2 separate regions of the Homo sapiens genome follow, and region 1 is linked to region 2. The links come from fine-mapping of genetic effects on gene expression. Tissue or cell type: whole blood. Region 2 holds a variant in brackets; the other region holds the start of a gene. All regions are shown on one strand. Distances are between the middles of the regions.

Region 1 (2,757 bases), 100 kb after region 2:
TTTTCAAGAAAGGAAAAATAAATGTTCCTTTTAGAAGACCTTCAGTGAAAAGTAGTTAATATTTTCAGTAGTGCTTATTATTTTTAATAGCTCTGGCTTTGGGGTAGGCTTCTGCTTCTGCCAGTCCCAGGCTTGCAAAGATGCAAACGACCGTCCACTAAAGAACACCCAGAATGCAGTGAGTGAAAAATGAATTTAGTTTCTCAAACTGTTTCAGTCCTCTGCACAGTTAAGGAAAAGAGAAATTATATGAATGCTTAAAATCCACCGGTTATCCTCCAAGCTAATGTTGGCCAGTAGTTTTCCATATATTTGGTTAAACCTTCCAGAAAGTGGCAGAATTGAGCGAGTTGAGGGTTCCCCCCACTTCTTTCCATCTCAGTGTACTTTCTGGAGCAGTTTGTAATTTTTTTTTTTTAAAAGCTATGAAGTGTCTTTTTAAAAAGTGGAGGTGCTTAGCAGGCAGTAAAGGATATGAGCACTGAAACTAAACATTCCCAAACGGATCATTTCCATCCTTATTTGAGGAATTATGCATTCATAAGGCTGGTGTGATTTAGGAACAGGTTATTCAAAGTGCAAATAGATATCTTCATGAATGACCAGAGCATATAAAAAACAAATTGTACTTAAGGTCCTAACTCGAGTTTATTGTGCACATATATCTTCTAAAAATGTGGAGTTAACCTACTTAGGGGTTACTGACCAGGGCTTTTAAAAGGCACAGGAACAGAGGGCTGAAGTCGTTAACACTAGACTGAGAAGCACGTTTAAGGGTAACAATGCCACCTCTTTGGATCAGAAGAGTTCCTGTTTGTTATGCAATGTGTGCACTTCATTATTTACACGATTTCACTAGGTGAATGGGAGCTGTGTACACAGCCAGGTGAGCCTGCAGCAGCGCCCCAGACTCTGACAGCGAACACCCTCTGTCTACTGCCTTCTGCTAGCCCTGCTTTGAAACAATACCCTTTTCTGGAAAAAAAAAAAAAAAAAACACAACCCTAAATCATAGCTACTTCTCTAGATAACAACCATTTTCTTTTCTTAAACGTTTTTAGGAATTAATAGAACTTTCTTGGAAAAATTTCCAAACTCGTTTCCACTGCGCTGAACGGACGATTTAAAAAGTAAATACTCAGAAGATACTAAGAAGATTCCGCTGGAGAGTCTCTTTTTATTGTGTTACGGGGTCTCCTAGCCCTCTCCTTTCTCCTACCCACGGCAGCCCATCTCTCTCCTCCAGGACCCCTTCTTTTTGGTATTTCCTGGAGTACGGATGAAAATGAATAGGTGAGCAGCCTCTGGGCTAGGCCAGGCACACAGGGGTCCCGAGTGACCTTGGGAGACTTGCGGGCTTCTGGAAGGAAGGCTCGGGCGGCCAAGCAGGAGTCGCCGCAGCGAGGAAGCGCCAGGAGGCGGCGGGGGCGACCCCGGGGGAAGGGCGGGCGGGGATGCGCCGAGGTTTCCGTGACTTGGGACTAGTCGCCCCGAGGCGCATTCTAACTGTCGGCTCCCCTGGCCCCAACGGCCAGAGAGAGAAGGGGGCGGATCCTCGCGTACCAGACACGCCCCGGTCGGGTATAAAATTCGCCAGGCGCTCGCTCCCCAGGCCACAGCCGCTCCCTCGCTCTGCTGGGGCCTCCGGACGCGCTTCCCACGCGGGTCTCTGGAACACTCGGTCCGAACGCACGCCTGCTTGCACTCACACTGCGGTTCACACCCGGAGGCGCTCTCGCACTCACACTGCCGCTCACGCGTGCTCACACTCCCCCACGCGCGCTCCGCTCCGGCTCCAGCCCCGCGCCCAGCGAAGGCGCAGGCACTGCTGCCGAGAGCGCCGAGGGGCCCCGCGGCCTTCCCATGGCGGACCTGAGCTTCATCGAAGATACCGTCGCCTTCCCCGAGAAGGAAGAGGATGAGGAGGAAGAAGAGGAGGGTGTGGAGTGGGGCTACGAGGAAGGTAAGTGGCCGCGAGTCGGGGTGTCCGGGGTCCCGCGGCGGCGTCAGTGTCTCGCCGAGCGCGGGACTCGAGTCCTGCTGCCGCTGCGCGCTCCGAGCACCCCCACGCCCCCTCTTTCCCACGGGGGTCTCTGCCACTTTCCCACTCCCCTGGTGCGTTTCGGGCGGGAGGCGCTCCAGGGAGGCGTGCTCGCCGCCTGCGCTCTTCCGCCGCCTGCGCTCTCACCCGGGAGCCTTCCGCAGGGCTGGCGTTCGCACCTGCTGCGGTCCGGAGGGCGGGCTAGCCTCCAAGCCGTGGCTGTACCTTTTATGTCTTCTGAGTAGTCAAGAAGAGCAGCGGTACATTTTACTAAACACCTGAGGAAGACAGTGTTAGCGTGAAGAATTCGTTTTTGGCTTGGAGACTTTGGGGAGAAAGTGTTTCTGCCTCTGGTCTTTTCGTGAAGCCTGCTAGCAATGCTCAAGTCTTTCTAAAACATGTCCTAAATTTCAGACTGAATCATTGGGTTTGGCGAGAAGCGGTTGACTTTCTGAAAAACTCGAGTTTCCTAGATTTATTCCTAAAGACCTAGGGCTCCTATTAGAGCCAACCAGTAGTGCTGATGTTTACTACATATGTTGAAACCAATATAGAATATATAATTTTAATTATAAAAAATTTGGAAAGACTATGGGAATATGTATGTACACAGATATATACATATGCACACTTTAAAATACTACACTTGCATTTCTGATAAGGGGCGTCTATTTACTAGCATGAGAGTTAGGGTTCTGACTGTCACTAAGTATGTT
Region 2 (2,757 bases):
TGAGCTGAAGTGACCGGTGATCATGCCACTGCACTCCAGCCTGGGTGACAGAGCAAGACTCTTTCTCAAAAAAAAACAAAAAAAAACACTTTAACTAACAATAATGCCCACTATTTATGTAATGTTGGTGTGTCAGGTACTGTAATAAATGCTTGCCATATTTTAATTAACTATCACTTCACAAAGTTTTACTTCATTCCCACATATATAACACTATCTTCATTAGTCAGTGATTTGATATAAGTCCAGAGCTCTTCTTTGATTATGAGTTCATTGATTATGAGTCCATTGATTGGAAGTTCTGTAGTTTTTTTTTTTGCATAAAATACATCTATAATGCCTCATTTATAATTTCTAAAATGTCTGGGATATAAGCACACCTGCAATGGAATTTGAGGGCAGAATCTTTTTTTTTTTTTTTTTTTTTTTGAGACGGAGTCTTGCTCTGTCACCCAGACTGGAGTGCAGTGGTGAGATCTCGACTAACTGCAAGCTCCACCTCCCAGGTTCACGCCATTCTCCTGCCTCAGCCTCCCAAGTATCTGGGACTACAGGCACCCGCCACCACGCCAGGCTCATTTTTTGTATTTTTAGTAGAGACGGAGTTTCACCATGTTAGCCAGGCTGGTCTCGATTTCCTGACCTCGTGATCCACCCGCCTCGGCCTCCCAAAGTGCTGGGATTACAGGTGTGAGCCACTGCGCCTGGCCGAGTGCAGAATCTGTTTAGATTTTTAAAACTTCTCCCATACCAATTTTTCTAGCTCATCACCAACAACTGATTTGACAGTATTTTTAAGCGATTTGTCTTTTATTTTTTGCCTTTGTATTTTACGGGTATATAACATGTTTGTTTTGTAATTAAAATAGCAACTAAAATTGGCACATTTAAAAACAAACGCAATTGTATTTTGGTGGTGAACCACTGGCAGGTGGGGCTTTATCTTCCTGTGGGCGTGCTTGCATGGGGGATTCTGGGAGTGTGCGGAAAAGATAATGACACTAAAGGGAGCTGGGAAGATCTTTTTCCCTCTGGAAATGCTGAATAAACTTTGTGTTACGTGCCTGTGTTTCTACTGCGACTCATCACATGAGGTCAGGTGTGAAACTTTCAGCTTTCCACTAGTGGCATCATGTTGGCATTCAAAAAGTTTCAGATTTTAGAGCATTTTGGATTTCAGATTTTCAGGATTTTAGGAATGTGCAACCTATAATAGGAATCTCGGAAGACAGTACAGAAAAAATGGGTGGGAGGAAATATTTCGAGAAATAACAAAATAGGTTTTCCTACAGCTGAATGACACTAGTTTCCCAGAACAATGAATAGATAATAGACTCATTTCAACTTACCACTGTAAAGTTTCCAGAAAAATATTAAAAGAGAACAAGAAATTTCCAGAGATAAAGAAAACAAATAAGCAAAAAAACAAGGTCACTTATAAAAGAACAAAAATCAGACCATCTTTTGAACTTCCCCTCAGCAACCCTGGATTTCTAA[G/C]AAATACTGGTATGAACTTCCTCTTCTTTTCTTTTTTAAGAGACAGAGCTGCCCCGTGTTGCCCAGGCCGGAGTGTAGTGATGCGATCTTACCTCACTGCAGCTTTGAGTTCCTGGGCGTGGCACAAGCAGTTCTTGAACTCCTGGCCTCAAGCGATCCTCCTGCCTTGGCCTCCCAAGCTGCTGGGATTACAGGCGTGAGCCACTGCACCCAGCTGGAATGCACATTCTAAGTTACAAGGTAAAACTATTTTCAATCTCACATTATATACTCAGCAAAGCTCTCAATCAAGAATGAGGGTAGAATGAACAGCTCTTCAGGTATGTAGGATTTAGGTTTACTTGTTCCATATAGTTTCTTAGGGAGTTACTTGGAGGACATAGTCCAGCTAAAGAAGGGAGTAAATCAAGAAAGAAGGCATGGGGTCCATCTCAGAGGAATAACAAAATAAGGTTCCCGCATCATAGCTAAGGAGCATATCTGCAGACCCTCAGTCTAGATGGAGGCACAAAGAGGGAAAGATCTGGAAAAATGGGAGGCTGACGATTTGTGGGATCTTTGAGAAACTGGAAAAGTAAAGATTTGATAAAGGCAAGCAATGCAAAGAAGCAACTGAAGCAGAAGAAAGAGGAGAAATAGGAAAAGGGAGAGGAGGAGGAGGAGGAGAAACTCTTAAAGAACACGAAAATTTGGAATGTAATAATAATACTTGGCTGTACAGACAATAATATTACATAGTCATAATAACATAAATACTGTTTGCTGATTTTCAAATTTTCAGATCAAATAACAAGGGAAAGAAGACTTGATTATGTATACACACACAAAAAGAAAGTGTTATCAAAACTGACAAGAAAAAGTAAGTCAAGGTACTTAAAGTAGTGCTGGAAGTTATAAGGTAAGGTGGGGAGAAAAGAAGAAAGAGGTTGGGCGTGGTGGCTCACGCCTGTAATCCCAGCACTGTGCGAGGCTGAGGTGGGCGGATCACGAGGTCAGGAGATCGAGACCATCCTGGCTAACACGGTGAAACCCTGTCTCTACTGAAAACGCAAAAAAAAAAAAAATTAGCTAGGCATGGTGGCAGGCGCCTATAGTCCCAGCTACTCGGGAGGCTGAGGCAGGAGAATGGAGTGAACCCGGGAGGTGGTGCTTGCAGTGAGTGGAGATCACGCCACTGCACTCCAGCCTGGGCAACAGAGCAAGACTCAGTCTCAAAAAAAAAAAAAAAAAAAAAAAAGAAGAAAGAAAAAGATCACTAAT

The links. PIP is the estimated chance that this variant, and not a neighbour inherited with it, causes the effect.
Region 1: it holds the start of CA8, and the variant in region 2 is fine-mapped to the expression of CA8 in whole blood (TOPMed, PIP above 0.99).

The regions. Positions count from the first base shown.
Region 1 is chr8:60,280,254-60,283,010 of GRCh38, reverse strand. It overlaps CA8 (carbonic anhydrase 8), which reads left to right and starts at 1,611. Exons shown (of 9, transcript NM_004056.6): 1 at 1,611-1,963. The coding sequence starts at 1,864. RefSeq lists a silencer at 1,428-1,636 and an enhancer at 1,629-2,135.
Region 2 is chr8:60,384,187-60,386,943 of GRCh38, reverse strand. No RefSeq gene overlaps it. Among named protein-coding and RNA genes, the nearest start is that of LINC01301, 28 kb to the left of the region's middle. The variant G/C (reference allele first, on the strand shown) is at 1,498.